Linked DNA regions of Homo sapiens. The protein of the gene in region 2 purifies or fractionates together with the protein of the main gene of each other region. This does not show direct contact. Each region holds a gene or a part of one and is shown on either strand. Other genes may lie near its edges.

What was found. Proteins that work in one complex are often made in the same cells at the same time.
Region 1: the proteins of TPD52L2 (region 2) and MTR fractionate together in Homo sapiens (co-fractionation; one large-scale study listed by BioGRID). This does not show direct contact.
Region 3: the proteins of TPD52L2 (region 2) and THG1L fractionate together in Homo sapiens (co-fractionation; one large-scale study listed by BioGRID). This does not show direct contact.
Region 4: the proteins of TPD52L2 (region 2) and C15orf40 fractionate together in Homo sapiens (co-fractionation; one large-scale study listed by BioGRID). This does not show direct contact.

Annotation. Positions count from the first base shown.
Region 1 is NC_000001.11:236,895,269-236,899,846, reverse strand, and holds part of MTR (methionine synthase), read right to left. Parts: intron 4,490-4,578; coding exon 4,297-4,489; intron 2,842-4,296; coding exon 2,729-2,841; intron 2,290-2,728; coding exon 2,203-2,289; 3' UTR 1-2,202. UniProt on the Homo sapiens protein: Catalyzes the transfer of a methyl group from methylcob(III)alamin (MeCbl) to homocysteine, yielding enzyme-bound cob(I)alamin and methionine in the cytosol. MeCbl is an active form of cobalamin (vitamin B12) used as a cofactor for methionine biosynthesis.
Region 2 is NC_000020.11:63,878,762-63,883,969, reverse strand, and holds part of TPD52L2 (tumor protein D54), read right to left. Parts: intron 1,252-5,208; coding exon 1,150-1,251; intron 1-1,149.
Region 3 is NC_000005.10:157,729,241-157,734,274, reverse strand, and holds the start of THG1L (probable tRNA(His) guanylyltransferase), read right to left. Parts: upstream 2,856-5,034; 5' UTR 2,835-2,855; coding exon 2,644-2,834; intron 2,477-2,643; exon of another isoform or gene 2,266-2,476; intron 1,846-2,265; exon of another isoform or gene 1,665-1,845; coding exon of another isoform or gene 1,660-1,664; intron 1,408-1,659; coding exon 1,231-1,407; intron 1-1,230. UniProt on the Homo sapiens protein: Adds a GMP to the 5'-end of tRNA(His) after transcription and RNase P cleavage. This step is essential for proper recognition of the tRNA and for the fidelity of protein synthesis.
Region 4 is NC_000015.10:83,008,785-83,013,801, forward strand, and holds the start of C15orf40 (UPF0235 protein C15orf40), read right to left. Parts: upstream 2,856-5,017; 5' UTR 2,824-2,855; coding exon 2,713-2,823; exon of another isoform or gene 2,702-2,712; intron 1,580-2,701; coding exon 1,453-1,579; intron 1-1,452.

The DNA of each region.
Region 1 (4,578 bases), on a different chromosome or scaffold from region 2:
CTACAGAACATCTATTTATTTAAAAGCCCTATTTCCTCTTGTGTAGTCTTCACTATTTTTCTATTTTTTTAAATAGGAATTCTCTATATTTGTGATTATGAATCCTTCATCAGTTATTTGTATTATAAATGTCTTCTCAAGTTGTGGATCATCTTCTCACTTCAAGTGTTTGCTTAATATAAGCCTTGAGTTTTAACAGAATTGACTTAACCATCTTGTCCTTTATGATTACTACTTTATGTCTCAAGAGATTCTTTCCTGCCCTAAGGCTTTTTTCATCCAAACACTGACAATTTTTGCTTTTTGTATTAAAGCCCTTAACATATTTGGAACTTATCACCAGGTAAGGTGAGAGAAAGTAAAATTTCTTTTTTTCCCACATGAATAGCCATTGTTCTGGGATTACTTAGGGAGTGGTCCTTCCTGTCCCCACTGACTTGCCATGTCACCAGGTCATTTTGCAAAGGTCAACATATGCACGGGTGAGTTTCTAGGCCCTTATTTTGTTCCCCTGCTCAGAATGCCTACCTCTGCACCATGACACTGTCTTGACAATAAAACTTGGTATCACATAGGGTGCGTGTCCCCAACCTCTCCTTCATATTTAGAAGCATTTGGTAATTTTAAGTCCTTTGCTACTCCATATAAACACCTGCTTGTTTCATTCAATAAAATCTGTTGGAATTTCCATTGAAAATGGTATTAAATCCATAGATCAATTTTAGGAGACCTGATACCTTTATAATCTTGAATATTCCTATTCATGAACAAAGATGGTTCTTCATTTGTTCCTCCCTTGCTTCTTCGTCTTCATCCTTCGAATCAAACCAGGACTCCAATGTTACCTTCTCCTGACTATTGCCACCACCATCTTGAAGTAGGATGAGTGTATATTTTGCATGCAAATTTTTGAAATAACTGCAATCATCCAAGAAAAAGATGACATGGTTGAGTTTGAGGCTTGTTGCTTGAGTGGTGGCACCATTCTTCATTACTGAATATATTGAGAATTGAGGGGAATAAAATGGTAAGAAATGAGTGACTTTATGCTGCCCACTTGTCCAACTCCGCACGGGATATCAGAGCCCAGCTGAGAACCTGCTCAATCCTGGAAACAATTAAAAGATGTTAACCGGCCAGGCTCGGTGGCTCACGCCTGTAATCCCAGCATTTTGGGAGGCTGAGGTGGGCAGATCACGAGGTCGGGAGATCAAGACCATCCTGGCTAACACAGTGAAATCCTGTCTCTACTTTTTTGTATTTTGTAAAAACACAAAAAATTAGCCGGGTGTGGTGGCGGGCACCTGTAGTCCCAGCTACTCTGGAGGCTGAGGCAGGAGAATGGCATGAACCCAGGAGGCGGAGCTTGCTATGAGCCGAGATTGCGCCCCTGCACTCCAGCCTGGGCGACAGAGCCAGACTCTGTCTCAAAAAAAAAAAAACCAAAACAAAACAAAACAAAAAAAATGTTAACCACCCTTAACAGTAACTTTCTCTCCTCATTTCCTTTTTGTTTCCTCAGGGGTACGGAAATATGAAATTATGGGAGGACGAAAATGCCCAGAAAGCATGGCTGCTTGACCACACTGGGGCAAATGGCTTCAGTGTTTCTGACAAGCAAGCAGTGAGCGCATGCCTTTTGCCAAAGGGAGTTCTGCAGCCATTTAGTCCAGCCTTTAGAAAACGAGGTCTTCCGAAGAGAACAGAGCTACACCTTCCCCGTCAGAATCCACTGTTATAACCACTTAGATTAAAATGCCCCATTTCTCACAGTATCATTTTGTCACAGGGTCACACTTCTCTATTCAACTCAGTTTCAGGCTTTTCTTCTAAGAGGAAAAAAAGACGACTAAGTGGCCTCCTAGATTCCACTGTAAAAACAGAAAAAAGCAGGTTGACTTGCTTTGAAATCAAACGACCTCTGTCTTCAGTCTGTCCCCATCTCAGAGGGACCAGGGAAACCACAGGAACCCTGCTCACTGCTCTTCACGCAAGGTCCCAAAAAAACAGCGCCTGTTTTCCAGGCACTGCAGGAAGACCCTGCTCCTCTACAAGGTTCCACTAAATAGTCTTCGAAAACCAGAAGCAGGTAAGTGTCAGCCAGATGCACACAGGTTTTTTGTTGTTGTTATTTTTAAGGCACCCTAGGTTGTATTTCCTTGAGGATCATCAAGAATAAAAAAGGCAAAAAAAAAAAAAAAGTTAGTCTGTATCATATCCCAAAATGGGTCCAAGCCATTTCTCAACCTCAGCCACAGATATGTTCTTCCTCAATGCATAATCCTCAACCTGCAAAAGATGAGAAGCATTTTATTAAACCAACATGATAAGACTTTTGGAATAGAAGTTTCCACAAGATTTGCCAAGAAACATTAAGTACCTTGCATTTCTTGTCTTAATAGCAATCTACAGAGTTAAATGGAGATAGATATTTATCTACCAAGTTGCCTTTTTCTCTGGGCAGAAAAACATGTAGTAAACATCTGATGCTTAGAAGCTGTATGTGTGTGTGTGTGTGTGTGTGTGTGTGTGTGTGCGTGTGTGTGGCTTGCATGTAGAAGTGAGGGCTAGAATAGAGGTATTCTATTGAAATCAAATTAAGACATTAACTGGAGTAAATTTCTTCATCCTTTCCCCTCACTTTATTCTCATTCACATTTAAAATGAGAGAGGTTCTAGAATTTCATTTGAACTAGGCAAGCCACATATAATGCAACAGCTAGCTTACCTGATCCTTGGAAATCTTCCCCACAGCAAAATATTTGGACTTCAAATTGGAGAAGTAGAGGCCTGAGACTGCTGAAGCAGGTGCCATTGCTAATGATTCTGTTAACCTAATGCCTAGAGGGAGCAACACAGGGAAAATGCTTATGGACTCAGTGTCTAGCACAGGGCCTGCAGCTAGCAGGCACTCAATGAACTCTTGTTGAACAAGTGAACCAAAGCGAGCTCATGCCTTCTAGGTAGACACATGACACAGCATGAAAGCTGTGATCAGAGAAGTCTAGCAAATTCCTGCCAGGTGAAGAAACAAATTCGGGACATGCAGATCTCCTCTAACCCAGGGGGACAGGCCTGGGAAAGACTCTACACTCCCACCTCCAGCCATCCCAGATCAGTTACAGGTGCCCTAATTTGCTCCTAAGCCTAGACCTTCTCAGGCAGGAGCTCTACCCCTGGAGATGAGAACAACAACTGAACAGCCTCCACCGGCTCTGTGCGGCCACTGATACTAGGGACGACTGAGAGCTCCAGTGAAGAAGGAACCCACAACATTGTGAGAAAGAAGAGACAGTTTTCCTTGGGATCTGAGAGCTCAAACAGACCCTCAAGGATATCTATTCGAAGCCACTCATTCTATGAACAAGGAAACAGAGCAACATGAAGGGTGAGTGCTTTGCCAGAGGTCGCCCAGCTAGCTTATGGCAGAAACAGGACTCAAACCCAGATCTCATGACTCCTAGAGTTAGTGTTGTTCCTGCTGAAGCAGATTCAGCACAGCTCATGGTTTCTCACTTAAATCTGGATGCCTTTATCAGCTTTGATGGCATGCTTTTTATTAATTCCGCTGAAAACTGTGAGCTTAGCCTGGGCCATCTCAACTACATGAACTCTGCAGTAATGACAGAACCAGGACATTGACATGACAATGTGCAGCCACAGAACCACGAGCCAAGTCAGCTCTGGGCACAGGACGCTGAGGCCGGGTGTCTGGGCCTTTGTCTCAGAAAGGCACATGCCAGCTTGTCATTTTCAGCTTTTAGAATCAATCCACAGGCAAAACATAACAGAGAATTATGATTACAGAAGAATATAAATGTTACTAACAGTGTAAAAGTAAAGAGAAAAGAGGGCTGAAGGGAAGGCTGGGCGCTCTGCAAGACCAGCACCCAGGGACACCATCCACAAGCAATGAGACAAGAGCATGAAGCAAAGTGACATTACTGAGGGACAAAGGTCGGTCTCTAAGGGAGGGATTAAAGACATCACCATGCCTGTGACAGGAAACTGGGGCAGGAGAGGCACAGGATGGTATACATAAGCTAAACTCCCATCTGGCGTAGGCCAAGAGGAAATAATTTAAATTGATACATCTAAAAATAATGATGTAAGAATACTAATCAGTAATACTGAAGTAAAATGCAGAATAGCTACGAGTGAAAAAGGACAGCATAAGGGACAATGTGATTAGAAGCCCTTCCATTTTAAAAACATGTTTAACCCTAAGTGCCAGTATGCTGATAAGAGTATCTACTGAAGAAGGAAGACAGGAACCCGCAGCCTCCTGGCTCCTACCTGTAGACTGCTCGATGTCTGCGAGTCTCCACATGGTGAGCTTCTCGGTGTGGTCGGGCTGGCTGGGGTAGCCAGGAGCCGGGCGGATGCCCTTGTACCGCAGCCTGCGCAGGTCTGCGACGTCCAGCTGCTCACTGCCACAGTAGGCCCACAGTTCTCGGCGAACTCTTTCATGGAGCTCTTCTGCAAAGGCCTTGGGACCCAAAGCAGCAGGCATGCTTAGGCAGACGCAGGGGCTCACAGCATCAGTGCAGCCTCCACCCCCTGAATTAGAACCATGAG
Region 2 (5,208 bases):
GTGTGGCCGTCTGTGTCCTGGCCTGTGGCTTAGTGGTCAGGGGAAAGCACTGGCGCAGGACGACCCCCACCTGGCAACCACAGGCGGGGAGGCAGGACACACCTAACCTAAGGCAGGCAGGCAGGGAGGCAGGCAGGCAGGCAGGCAGGCAGCCCAGCAGGAGATGTACGTATCTCTGAATCCTGCAGGGGCCACAAGAGGGGAAGAGGGGAGGGCTGGGTGGGGTCAGCACTGTGCTCCACACACCGGTCCTTTAGGAAGCCTGCACCCATCTTTGCCAGGATTGGGTCAGAGCTACAGGGAGGCACTCCCTGAGATCCAAAAGCCAGAAGACCAGTTCTGAGAATGGGAAAGGGGTCAGGGCAGGGTGGGCAGCAGCACCCAGAAGTTGGGGCCAGGATGCTGTTGATGGTGACAACCTATATCATCCACTCCTACAACCCCTGTGAAAGAAGGCGTGCCTGAGGCCCAGCTGGGGTGCCCAGCCAGGAGGTAGCCCAGCCAAGCATCATACCCAGGCTTCTGGCTCAATCCCCTCATCACCATGCTGTAGTCAGGGAGCCTAGAACAGGGAAGGAAGAGCAAACATGCCAGCCACAAAGCGCCGGCCCCCTGCTCACTCCTTGGCCCCAGCCCTGCTTGCTGAGGGACCTCTGATGGCCAGGAGGCTTTCACCAGCCTCTGGGAGAGAAGGCTCATTCAGGGCCTCCTGGCGTCTGACTGCACTTTCTGAGACCTGGGAAACAGCCTGAGGAAGTACCACGCCGAGCCCCTGTCCTAGAGATGGTGGAGGACTGCCGTCCCACACTGACCTGACTCTGACCCCTGGGCTGGAGTCGCTGCCACTCAGTGAAGCTTCAAGGTGCAGACTCCTCCCTCACCAACCCCGAGCACCACAAGTTACCCAACAGCACTGGCAGCCAACCCTCCCTGAAGAACACAGCAACGGCAGAAAAGCAGCCAACGGGGATGGACGAACCTCCCAGGCAAGGGTCTGCACACAGACTGGTCGGGGCCATGATGGATGGCCACATCCCTGAGCCAGTGCATCTGAGCCCTGATCTCCAGGCAGGCTTCCTGTAGCACCTCCAACACCTCACCTCACTCCTGGCCAGGTCTCAGGGCAGCAGAGTCAGGGTTGCGTCTCACCTCATGTCTCCAAGCTTCCTGCTGATGGCAGAGCCCACTGTGGACAGGGCAGCTGAAGTCTTCTGTCCTGCCTGTGAAAGAGTTTCCTGAGTCTTCTTGTAGCTGGAAGACACACCAGTTAAATCAACCAGACAGCATGGGCGGGTCACCACCCACAGCCAAGCAAACAAAGCACTGGGAGCACGCCCGAGGAAAACTGAGGAAAGGAGCTGGGCCAAGGGGTGGACACTCGCCAGGTGTCTACAGAGGGGGTGCAGGCCCAGAGCCCCTCGGCCCCCAGAGGCCCCTGCGGCGAGGAGCCGCCTGTGCATTGCTCGCTCACTGAGCTCTCGGCGACCCTGCCGAGTCTCGGCCCCCCAGCCCTGCAATGACGCTGCTTTCTCATCTCACAACCCAATTTCACCCCCTTGCCTGATACCCACTAAGCTCGCTTTCCTGTCTTCTCACAGCCCCTCTGACTACAGAGAACACGCCCCATTTGCCTGCTAGAGCGGACGGGCCCCCTGAGGTGCACGCCTGGCAGGCAGTGCCAGAGCAGAAAGGCCTCTCAGTGCCCTGACCGGCCCATGCGTGCAAGTTTCCCTTTCCTCTTCCCAAATGAGACTGTGCTGAGGGGAGAAAATGCAAGCTCAACCACGTCTGTGGGGAACGAGCGTCACAGAGTGGCCATGCAGCCCGCAAGGTGCCCCTGCTCCAGACGGCGGGGCCCCGTGTGCCTTCAGAACATCGGACAGTTCCATTCCCAGGCCTCTTTTCACAGTGCAAGGGTCTGTCCTGGCCCCTAGTGAAGGCCCCGCTTCTATCCCCTCCAGCTCCCTCCAGTGTCCACCCACATGGGTACATCCCATCAAAGCAAAGCTCTAGGGCCTTGGCGTCTGCAGGACAGGCAAAGGGCAGCAGGCAGGATGCTGTGGCTGCAGGGATACTGTTGGGCCCACCATGACAGTCAACACCTGAAGTCGCTGGCCCTCATCCAGCTGCCACCATAAACACAAAACACAGCAGACTCTGACATAACAAAGTCCAAAATGCGAACCCACAGCCACCTTATCACGGCTCCTCCCTCAGTGAAGCCAGGGAACTCGAGGCTGAATGGAGATGGGCTCCCAGGACCATCTTGGCGTTACCAGTGCCAACCTGGAGAGCTGGCAAACCCAGCCAAGCCCTGAGTGGCATCTGGGATGACTGGCGCCAGAGAAGGCACAGGCTCCTCCTGCTCCCACTGGCGGCACCAGGTCCCAATGATGGGCCTTCCGGAGCCCTTACTCACAGGCCCTCCCACCACTCCCTGCAGAAGGCCCGTGTGAGCTGAGTGCTACTACTCTCCAGCCCCCAAACAGTTGACAAGAGTGTGTGACCCACCAAGTGTGCCCTGGCAGCGCATCCCAGCGCAGCTCTCTCATGCCCGCCCCCGGCCCAAGGCCTACCAGAGGATGCACTTTCTTTCTTTTTTTTTTTTTTGAGACAAAGTCTCGCTCTGTCACTCAGGCTGGGGGGCAGTGGTGCAATTTCAGCTCACTACAACCTCCGCCTCCGGGTTCAAGAGATTCTCCTGCCTCAGCGTCCCAAGTAGCTGGGATTACAGGCACCCACCACCACGCCCTGCTAAATTTGTCTTTTTAGTACAGATAGCGTTTCACCATGTTGGCCAGGCTGGTCTTGAACTCCTGACCTCAGGTGATCCACCCGCCTCGGCCTCCCGCAGTGCTGGGATGACAGGTGTGAGCCACTGCGCCCAGCCCGCTCGGATGACAGGTGTGAGCCACCGTGCTCAGCCCAGAGGATGCACTTTCCCATCCAGGCTCCGTGCAGCTGGAATCATGGCTGTTTTTAAATTTTTTCTTCTTTTATTAATAAAACACCAGTTATAAGTAACTAATGACCTGCTATATTTAGTTTCAAAAACACAAATTCTTTTTTTTTTTTTTTTGAGACAGAGTCTTGCTCTGTAGCCCAGGCTGGAGTGCAGCAGCACCATCTCGGCTCACTGCAAGCTCTGCCTCACGGGTGCACGCCATTCTCCTGCCTCAGCCTCCCGAGTAGCTGGGACTACAGGCGCCCGCCACCACATCCGGCTAATTTTTTTGTATTTTTGGTACAGACGGAGTTTCACCGTGTTAGCCAGGATGGTCTCGATCTCCTGACCTCGTGATCCGCCTGCCTCAGCCTCCAAAAGTGTTGGGATTACAGGTGTGAGCCACCGTGCCCAGCCCAAAAATACAAATTCTGAAGACATCTTTAACCTTGATTTTCCCTGAAATAACAAATGCATAAAACCATGTGAACATTCTGTGGTTCGCTGAAGCAAAGTCACCTGCAGCAGAGGATTCTAAAGCGCTCACAGCACCTGCATTTGTGCCTAAAGAGTGGGGATGGGGAAGCTGCACCTGCATTTGTGCCCTAAGAGTGGGGATGGGGAAGCTGCACCTGCATTTGTGCCTAAAGAGTGGGGATGGGGAAGCTGCACCTGCATTTGTGCCCTAAGAGTGGGGATGGGGAAGCTGCACCTGCATTTGTGCCTAAAGAGTGGGGATGGGGAAGCTGCACCTGCATTTGTGCCCTAAGAGTGGGGATGGGGAAGCTGCACCTGCATTTGTGCCCTAAGAGTGGGGATGGGGAAGCTGCACCTGCATTTGTGCCTAAAGAGTGGGGATGGGGAAGCTGCACCTGCATTTGTGCCCTAAGAGTGGGGATGGGAAAGCTGCACCTGCATTTGTGCCTAAAGAGTGGGGATGGGGAAGCTGCACCTGCATTTGTGCCTAAAGAGTGGGGATGGGGAAGCTGCACCTGCATTTGTGCCCTAAGAGTGGGGATGGGGAAGCTGCACCTGCATTTGTGCCTAAAGAGTGGGGATGGGGAAGCTGCACCTGCATTTGTGCCTAAAGAGTGGGGATGGGGAAGCTGCACCTGCATTTGTGCCCTAAGAGTGGGGATGGGGAAGCTGCACCTGCATTTGTGCCCTAAGAGTGGGGATGGGGAAGCTGCACCTGCATTTGTGCCCTAAGAGTGGGGATGGGAAAGCTGCACCTGCATTTGTGCCCTAAGAGTGGGGATGGGAAAGCTGCACCTGCATTTGTGCCTAAAGAGTGGGGATGGGGAAGCTGCACCTGCATTTGTGCCCTAAGAGTGGGGATGGGGAAGCTGCACCTGCATTTGTGCCCTAAGAGTGGGGATGGGGAAGCTACACCTGCATTTGTGCCTAAAGAGTGGGCATGGGGAAGCTACACCTGCATTTGTGCCCTAAGAGTGGGGATGGGGAAACCGAAGTTGGAGAGAAAACAACCGCCTGTGCCCGGCCTTCAGAATGAGATGTGGGGTCCTGAGCGTGACCTGTGGGTGGGTAAGTACCACCCACACAAGGAGGATCGGAATGAGATGCGGGTCCTGAGCGTGACCTGTGGGTGGGTAAATGCCACCCACACAAGGAGGAGGGTCCTGAGGGTTCCTGGCCACTGACCACTGGCCACTGACACCCGGTGCCACTGTGATCAGTCCCTGCTGTGCCATAAACCACACTCAAGCCCCTGGGGGCCCCACAGCCCTCAGCATTGCTCGGGTGTGGAAATGAGGGGGTCACAAGGGAACCTCCTCTAGAAACAGGAACCTCCAAACTGGGATGGCCCTGGAAACAATGGGCATCACCTGCATAGCCTGAGGCCACCACCAGCGCCTCCCTGGCCTTCTCTTCCTACAGCAGGTCCCTGCCCAACAGCTGTGGCTCTGACCTCTCCCTTCCCCTTCTCAGTCCCATCCTGGGCCTCCAAGGTGGCGGCAGCAGCTGTGAGGCCCCCTTCCAAGGCTCACAGCGCTGCAGGCCTGTTCTGAGAGCGTCAAACACACAGGCACACACATTCCTCAGTGGACCAGAAGGCTGGGTTGTTATTACTCCATGACAGATGGGGAAGCTGAGCCCGGGAGGAAGGGGCAGGGGTCAGAGCCAGCATCTGCACCCAATAACTAGCTTCAGCTCTCCTTGAGAGCACCGGGCCGGGCAACCCCAGCCAGCACCCATTTGGGAGTTCCTAAGACCTTCTAGGAAGAGAGCCCTGGACAGACAGC
Region 3 (5,034 bases), on a different chromosome or scaffold from region 2:
CTGGGATTACAGGTGCAGGCCACTACGCCCAGCTAATTTTTGTATTTTCAGTAGAGATGGGGTTTCACCATGTTGGCCAGGCTAGTCTCAAACTTCTGACCTCAAGTCATCTGCCTGCCTCAGCCTCCCAAAGTGCTGGGATTACAGGCGTGAGTCATCACACCTGGCCAGTTATGTATTTTAAATGCAGCCTGCCTCTCCTTCCAGTTCTATTAAGTAACCTACTGATACTAAACCTTTCCCTACAGGATGTGATACGAATTTATGATTCAAGGGGTATTTTTAAATTTTATTTTATTTTTTAAAAGATGGAATCTCTCTGTCCCTCAGGCTGGGGTGGATTGGCACAATCATAGCTCACTGCTGCCTCAAATTCCTTGGCTCAATGGATCCTCCTGCCTCAACCTCCTTAGTAGCTGTGACTATAGGCACATGCCACTGAGCCCGGCTAATTTTTAAATTTTTTGTAGAGATGAGGTCTCACCATCTTGCCCAGGCTGGTCTCAAACCTCTGGGCTCAAGTAATCCTCTCCCTTACCCTCTCAAAGTGTTGGGATTACAGGCGTGAGCCACCACGCCTGATCTGTTTGTGTTTACAGTCATGAAAGGAGAGAAACCATTGTTGTAAAAAAAATGCCAATTCAGGCTGGGCGTGGTGGCTCATGTCTGTAATCCTAGCACTTCGAGAGGCCAAGACAGGAGAACTGCTTGAGGCCAGGAGTTTGAGACCAGCCTGGGCAACACAGAGAGACCCCACCTCTATTAAAAAAAGAAAGAAAGAAAAAACCAATTCATTATATGATTTGTTTCCCATACAGCGTTTCAAAATACTGCCAAATCAAATATCAGATTTGTGTATTTTATAATGAGATCTGTCTTGAGGAACAGTGTAATGCAATGCACGTAGAGACTATCACTGGCTAAAGCCAACCTATGAATTGTTAATATTACATTCTTATAGTCTCTGTTTCTAATCTTAATGTTCAATGCCAGGTCAGTCTAGAAACCAATCTTATGGGGCATGTGGGGAAAGAATCAGATAAAAGAGGCACACAGAATGCTCGGCTATCAGATGGAAGTACAACAATCTAAACAGGAAATATACATGTACTCTGCAGTTACAAATACTGCAGACATCATCTGTAGCCTGTAAGTCTGCGATTAAGATAAACAGAAAACCAGATGCTGGGAGGAAATATTCTGAAGAAAGGAGTTAGGTCATGGAATTACCTGGCTCTTCTTTTAAACCAATTGGTTTTCCGCTTGAACACAAAGCTGTACTCATCACTCTGTCCATACGCGATCACAATATCCTCTAGTTCTTCCATCACAGTCTGCGCACATTTGGTCATCAGCTGGAGAGCACGGCTGTCATTGGGTTTTGCAAAGTTGTGCTTCTCAGCAAACCTTCACAGGGGAAAAAGGGAAGAAAGCATGGATGGAAGCCTGTCATTAACAACACGCTCTGTTGCTAGATAACAGAGGCTGTTTGGAGGAAGATAATGTAATAGCACTGTGAACTCAAATGCTCAACTAGCCACAACCTGATCCATTTTCTTAAGAACTTAGTTTTTTTCCTGCCCTGAAATTGAGAAAGCCAGACAGAAATGCTAAGCCTCAACTCTCCTTTCTGTGAAATGGGAATAAAAGAATATTTACCTCATTGGGTTGTCCTGAAGATTAGGGAGAAGATAAAAGTAATCATACCTAGCTCCTAGTAAGTGCTCAATAAATGTTAGTTATAATAATCATTAACAATGCAGCCCTCTTCAAAGATTAAATTCCCATCTTTCTGTTATATTTCTTTCTCCCCCTCCCTCTTTTTCTGAGACAGGGTCTTGCTCTGTCACCCAAGCTGGAGTGCAGTGTCCAATCACCGCTCACTGCAGCCTTGACCTCCCAGGCTCAAGCGATCCTTCCACCTCAGCCTTCCCAGTAGCTGGAACTACATGTGTGCACCACTGCGCCGGGCAAATTAAATTTTTTCTTTTTCTTTCTTTCTCTCTTCCTTCTTTCTCTCTCTCTCTCTCTTTTTTTTTTTTTTTTTTTTTTTTTTTTTGTAGTGGCGGAGTTTCACAAACAACAACCACAGAAAAAACAAAACAAAAACAAAAACTTGGTCTCCAACTCCTGGCCTTAAGTGATCCTCCTGCCTCCCGCGCCCAGCCTTCTCTTTTTTTCTGACTCTCTGTTGAATCTAGTCCATGTGGCCTGTTACTGATAATGAAGCACAGACGTTAAGTATTGCCCACAAGCAAGGCTTACACAGACTTCTGAACAGTCAGCATTCAAAGATATCTAACAGAATAGCTAGGCAATTGGCTTAAGAGCTTAAATATTGTGCATGAGAGTGACTTTTAACAACAGGTCCTTGCTAACAAGTCTCTGTTCACTTAACACGGGCACTCCAAGCCAGATCCTCATCACGGGAGCACATCGCCCATTCAATTACGCTAACAGCCAGCGTTCAGGCACTGTCCTAGCCAACACGCAGGGCGGGGCAATGCTCCATGCTGCGCACTCATTGGCTACCGCGTTACCCTGGTAACCGTGACTGGAGCGGGCGGGAGGACTTGCAAGGGAAGAAGCTGGATTCCCCGGAAGCGCTGGCGCATCGCGACGCCCCGAGTCGAGCTCGCTCACCGATGGAAATTCCGGCCGTCCAGCCGCACTACCACCCAGCAGTGTGCCAGGCAGGTGTCGTCAGCCTCGAAGTCCCTCACGTACTCGAACTTGCTTTTTGCCATGGTCGCCCCCAATCTCAGGTACCGTCTCAGAGTGATGGAAATGGTGGCCAAGGAATCGTGAACCTTAACTTTACAGGCGCCCCACATTCTACACGCGGAAAGGAAAGGGCCAGATAGCCCCGCCCCGGAAGTGTTCTCTTCGCGGCTACTCTAGCCGTAGGGCAGTCATAGTCTCTCTCGCCTCTCCCTGTAGTTCTTAACCTCCCAGGCAAAGAGGATGGAGGTTTAGGTTCCTCCGTTAGCACCTTCCACGCTTGCTTCTTCCTCCTCCCGTCCTGCGGCAAATCAGTCTCACGAGGTTTTTAAAAATTATTTTTTATCTGCTGGTCTTGACTTACTGGCAAAAGCAATCAGTGTCCCCGTTAGTGCCCAGATCAAAATCATACCCCAACCTAAAAAAAAAAAAAAAAAAAAAAATTCTTTTTCTGGTGTTTGAAGGTGTAGCTGTGATGTTTCCCCTTTTCTTAGTGGCATTTATTAACTTGTAGAAAATCTGGAATACACCAAAACTATAGTTAAGAAAATTAACACTTTGTTTCTCCGTCTTTCCCATCAAAGCATTGTGGATGGTTCCTTTCAGTCTTTTTTCTTTTTGTGTATGTAGGTTTACACAGGGAATGCACAAGATTGGAATTATTCGCCTATACAATGTTTATATATTTTTCCACTCAGCTTGAGCATTTGCCAGTATCATCAATTATTCCAAAGTGTGATTTTTAAAAGAAAAATGGACTCAATATTCCAACATATGGGTATACTAAATTGATTTATTCAACTTTTTCACCATTAAATAATCACAGAACCAGTGTTTGATATCTTGTTGCTGGTGGATAATAGTAAAAATAAAATCCTAATATTTGTGTCATACTTTGTGATTTACAAAGCTCTTTCAAATTCATTACCTACTTACTTACTTTTTTTTTTTTTCCATCCTCAAGAAAGATATTCAGGCCAGGCACGGTGGCTGACGCCTGTAATCCCAGCACTTTGGGAGGCAGAGGCAGGAGGATTGCTTGAGTTCAGGAGATTCATACCAGCCTTGGCAACGTAGCAAGACCCCTGTTCCTACAAAAAAGAAAAAAAATTATCCAGGCTTAGTAGCCCATGCCCGTAGTCCTAGCTATGGGAGGATGAGGTGGGAAGATACTTGAGGCCAGGAGTTCGAGACTGCAGTGACCCATCATTAGCCACTGCACTCCAGCCTTGGTGACAGAGCAAGAATCTGTCTCTAAAGAAAAAGAAAAATATTCAAACAATATAAATCCTTTTATATGTAGCAAAAAGTCTCTCACTGACTCCTAACAACATACTTTAGGCAGTTACTGTTACCAGTTTTTTGTGTATCCATACAGGGATCTATATCAGTATGTGTGTATATCCTCATAATAGTACCACAAATGGTAGTCATCACTCCTTTGATGCTCAGAGTAACATCAGAGGGATGCAAAAGAGGAACTGGGATTTCACCTTTACAAAGGGGAAATCTGAGACTCAAAGAGAAAAAAATAATTTACATAAGGTCACATATGTGGCAGGACCAAGACATAAATTATGACATCCTGCATCTTTTCTTTGTTTCTGTTGCTGTGAAGTCAGTTTTCTGTAGGTTATCATTCCTCACCTTTTACTTCCACAAACTCCTCTCTCCAAGCTGACCAGGAGACAACCAAATCTTGCCTCCTCTAGGAGCCCTACTTTCATTAGGTGAATTTTTCAAAATTACTTATCAATATGAATTCATGATTTTTATTTTTTTTATGTGTATGTTTTCGAGACAGAGTCTCACTGTCACCTAGGCTGGAGTACAATGGCATGATCTCAGCTCACTGCAGCCTAGACCTCTTGGGTTCAGGTGAACCTCCCACCTCCCTTCCTAGTAGCTGGGACTACAGGTGCGTGCCACCATGCCCACCTAATATTTGTATTTTTTTTTGTAGAAACAGGGTTTCCCCATCCACATCCCACACTGGGAGATGAGACTCCTATCAGGGATGGGCTGAATATAAAATAAGCCAATTGGCTTTGGGTTGCTTTGCAGTGAAATGCATAGTAGAAGTACTACACTGTCTTCTCCCATAGCATCTATATGGTCTTTACATAAATTAAGCATTAAAATAACAGCATAGCAAGGAGGTCTTAAGATGCTAATCTGCCCTTTAGTAAAAGGGTTATAAAAGGTTTGTAAAGTTTTCACCTCATGGTCAAATTGGTTAGGATTAAATGGAATAATCTATAAGGTTTCATGTAAATGAATTGGGGTTAACATTAATAAATTAATGCAAGGGTA
Region 4 (5,017 bases), on a different chromosome or scaffold from region 2:
TAAAAACTGTTGAATGAAGAAATGAATGATTAAACTAATCACATTTAAGGAACATGAACATGATAAAAATGGCCCTACCATTACAGGAAATAAATCCAGAGAAGAAAAGTTATTGACCCAATCTTGCCGACCAAGATGGGCTTACAGAGCCCTGGGGAATATCCTGGATTTAGGCAACTGGAAATTGCCCTTGGTATGTGAAGAGCCCCAGGCAGGGAGTCATAGATGGCCTTCAGCCTCATCAATGTCACTGAAGAAGTGTATGGACAGGGCAGCTTACTAGATTGTACAAGGTTGTGCAGGGTTTCCTCAACAGGAAAATGAGAGCCCCGGACTAGGTTCACCTCTTATGTGACACATATCTTGAGTGTTTTTAAAATTTAATAATGTTTACTTAACAAATATTTACAGAGCACTTACTATACACCAATTTTAAGCACACACAAATGTGTTAAAGGCTTTACAAATACTAACTTCTTTAATCCTTATAATAACTTTATGAAGATATTAGTACCATTATTATCTCCATTTTACAAATGAGCCATGGCATCCAGCCTCCCATTTTAGATCTAATGAAACATAATACTCCAACGTAGACAGTGTCCACACCCACTACTTAGAAAATGCTGGCCAAGGAGGGTATGGCTAAGTTAACTTGGTCATCAGCATAAACCAGGTCTAGCACGTCAATGTTGTGGTTTTCCTTTCAAAATCTAAAAATGGTTTGAAATACAGAGCTTTAGAGGTGAAAAAGACCTTCAAAAGAATTTAGAGCAATGGTTTTTGAACTTTTTTTCCTTTAGAATCCCTTCCCCCAATTTTCTCCAGAATCCCAATATGTAAAACAAATGTAAACAGAGCTAGTCAGGAGCCCTGTCTGCCTGGCCTCCTCCTTGCCCAAAGCTGATTCCTGAGGCACCTCCAGCACTCCAGAGAATAGCCTGAAAGCCTCTAACTTAGTCCAACGATCTCATCTGACAGATGAAAAAACTGGACCCATGAATGTTTTATACTGTTTTGATTTAAAACAAATTCGCACAGGAACTGATCACGGGTCTCAGATCTCAAGTTTTCTCCCTCTCCTTAGGCCAGTGATCATTAAACTACACTAAAATGTCTCTTCTTTCTCTGGCCAATGTCTCCAGTTTTGGAACAGGACAAACTAAGAATAATCCAGACTACACACAAGTTTCCATAACTGTCCTTTCTAAAATACTGTATTTTTAAAGAGGAAAATATACAATGGTTTTCGTGTAACTTGGCATGATTTAAAGATATATTCACTTTAAGACACCTTTACATTAGAATCTAGAATTTTAAAATGGAGAAGCCTCTAACTGCAGATGTGAAAAATCAACTGTCATAGAATAAGCTTTCAGCTAACCAAAGCAAAGGAGGGCTGTAGGAGACACCTGATTCACACTTGAATCCCACCCCAGTGTCCAGGTATACCTGTTACAGCATTTTGTTTGGAGCCAGGTTTTGCATGGATGGCTATGGTGACGCATCCTTTAGGATCAACTGCCACAGGACCTAAGGGAGGAAGTGGTCTCTCTGGTTCCTTGCTCTGGCTTTTACCCTAAAATGACAACCACACAACTTTACAGGTTACAAAATATTTTCCCACACATTTAATTTGATTCTTCCACTACCCCCTTTCACCCTTAACAGACAAACTAGGCTCATCAGTGGTGTCCAGGGACTTCTGGCCACCTAGAAAGCTTTTCCCACAACCTTCAAGGCTCTACTCAATTTTCCCACGAAGGGTTCCCATCAACCCAACAGTGTTTTTTCCCCCCTTGCAAGAAAACCTAACTCTGGCTTCTAAACCTTAATGCTTGCTCCTCCCTCTGCTTTGTATTTCCAATTCCTTGGGGGCAGGGATCATTTATTATTCATCATTGTATCTCATGCAGTCGGAGCTAATAAATGTTGGTGAAAGTGTGTATGTCTGCATGTTGCGGGAAAGGGAGGAAAAAAAAATAGTGCTTGATATTTAAAGGCCTGTTATGGGACAGGGGCTGTGCTAGGAACTTTCGTTCAACAAATATGTAGGCAATGGATATGTAAAGATGAAAAGGTACATGGTCCTTGCTCTCAAGGAGCTCGGACTGCTGCGAGGGAGAAAGAACATACAAAATTATAATACACTGTGCTAAGTGCACCGATGAGATAGGCACAGAACATTACCCCACAGGCAAATCAGCATTGGGGCACTGGAGAATGCTGCCAGCAGGAGGCAGTGCTTGAGCTGAGTCTGAGAAACGGACTGGGGTTGGCCAAACAAAGATGGTGGAAATGGGAGTGCTGTATTCTTGACAGAAGGGGTGCGATCAGCCAAAGCAAGGGAGGAGAAAGCAGAATACAGCCTCCTGGGGAAACGCAGGTCATGCCGCTGCGGGAACATGAATTGCTGGACTGGGAGTGCGGGTAGGAGGCCAAAGGTCAGCACACGCAGCCCAAGGAGAGCTCGGCTGCCGCCGGGCCCAGCGCTCAGAAATCACCAGGTGGACGGCAGCGCAGCCTACTGAGGCGGGGCGACGGCAGCAGGCCGCAGCTCTGGGGGTGGCGGCGGCTGTCCTGAGCCCCGGAACTGAGAGACGGCAAGCCGCTGGCAGTGCCTCCACTCACTCCCGGGCCCCGCTTCTCCCGCGCTCTTCAACAAGTACCCCTGAGGCCCACCCCTCTGCCGCCACGGGACCTGCTACTGGCCTTGGTCGTCGCACCAGCCTTCTTAGGCATCTCGGCGCAAAGAAGCCGAGCGGAGCCCCGAGTATTGGGTGTTGCCCGAAGGTGCCTCAGCCCGCTGCGGAGCCGCAGCATCCCCGCCTGGGAAGGCGCCGGAAGAGCCCTCTGCGCTTGCGCAGGTAGCCGGCAGGAGCGGCCCCACCGCCCGGCGCATCCGCTCTGGCCAGAGGGCGACACCTTAAGGCCGGCGGGAGCGAGTCTCGTGGCCGCAGAACATGCGCGAGTCTCTTTTGTTCTGGAACGGGCCGAGCCCCAGGAAGTGGAGCTGCGGAGCTGAGGCCTCACCGTGTCTTGGCCCACCCTGCTCAGCTGATAGGAAGGTGTGTCACCTCTTTCCTAATCGGGGAAAGAAAGGTATTGTCACTTCTCAGAATTGGAGAGCGCGGCAAGGAGTGCACAGGGCCAGGTGTCTTCTCGCTCCCACAGCCAAGCAGCAGATGCAGAGTCCCACGCGCTGCCTGTGGCCATCAAGTCGATATAGAGCCTCGTGGCGGCTTGGCCCTTGTGAATCTTCCACGTATCGATGGCGCACCTACCTTGTGCCAGGCGCAGCGGATCCCACAATGTAAAAGAAGAGGAAATACACTGCGACATGTGATATGGAGAGACATGAAACAAATCAGCAGAGGCAAGATCATGGAGTCACTGAAGGCTTTCAAGCAAGGGATTATTAGCAGCCCAATTTGCTGGGTTTTAGAAAGACACCGGCTGCACTGTGGCCGACAGAGGAAAAGCCAGAGACAGGGAGATCCGCCCCCTAAATGGGAGAGGGTGGCCTGAACTAGAGTAACCGCAGGGAGGGTGGAGCGCTGATCATTTCAAGGATCTTCAGGAACTGAAATGATCAGAACTTGGGAATGACTGCATGTGCGAATAAGGGGGAAAAGTCAAGGAAATGCCCAGGTTTGGGGCCCAAGGAACAGGTTTGGGAGGCCGAGGTGAGGAGTTCAGCTTTGGACATAATGAGTTTGAGATGCCCACAGGACATCCAAATACAAATGTTAAAGGGGTAACTGAATATATGTGACTGGAGTTTGCGAAATCAAGGCTGGTGATAGAGATTCTGGAATCTTCTGAAAGCAGATGGCAATTGAAGCTATGGAAATGGATGAGAGAGTGTGTAAAGAGCACGAGGGCCCAGGTTAGAACAGCAAGGGCAGGTAGAGAAGTCACCAAAGGACACTGACCAGGTAGGAGTACGGTGTAACGGCAGCTAAAGAAGGGCGCTTCAAGAGGGAACATCAACAGTGATGAACACTCTGGAGAGAACATGTCACATGTAACGACTGAGAAGTGGCCACAAGATTTAGAAATCAGGGTGGTGGTGGTGACCCGGGCTACAGCAGTTTTAGTGGAGAGAAGGAAATGGAGATAATTGTAGAGAATAATCCAGTGACTTCACTGTGAAGGAGCAATTGGTATCTGGAGGGGCACATGACATTCAGAGACTTATTTTTATCATATTTGAAGATTGGTAGGAAAGAGCCAGGAGAAGAGAGGTTACAGCAGAGGACGGTTCCTGAAGAGGTAGGATCTGAGCTCAAGTAGAGATTGAGTTCTCTACAGGAGGCCTTAGACACTCCTTCCTTCCTAAGGGAAAGCTTAGGTGGACATGTAGCTGTGTTTGTAGGTTTGGTGATGGGAGGTGGAATTTCTTTCATTAACTAAGGCGGGGGAGGTGTTGAAGGTATATTGGGACTCTTGAGAATGGCAAAGGGCTGACTATTGCAACTCACCCAGCGGTAGACAGTTAAGGGAGACCGTGAAATCATCTATGATCCCAATCTATAGTTACCTTATTTTATTTTTGTTTATTTTTGAGACAGGGGGATGGGAAGAGCCTGTCGCCCAGGCTGGAGTGCAGTGGCGGGATCTCGGCTCACTGCAACCTCCGCCTCCTAGGTTCAAGCAATTCTCCCTGCCTCAGCCTCCAGAGTAGCTGGGACTACAGGCGCGCGCCACCACACCCATTTTTTGTATTTTTAGTAGAGACGGGCGTTTCGCCATTTCGCCCAGGCTGGTCTCGAACTCCTGAGCTCAGGCAATCCACCCACTTCGGCCTCCCAAAGTGCTAGGATTACAGGCGTGAGCTAGCGCCTGGCCTATAGTTACGTTACTTTAGATGCCTGGATTCACCAGCTAAGAAGTTTTTTTTTTAATTAAATTTTTTTTTGGCCCCAGTGCTACTACCAAAGCAGTCAGGAAGTTGAAGATAAGGCAGACAACTGGATTGATTCAGGTATATTTAAGTGGGTTGAGGGTTATTGAT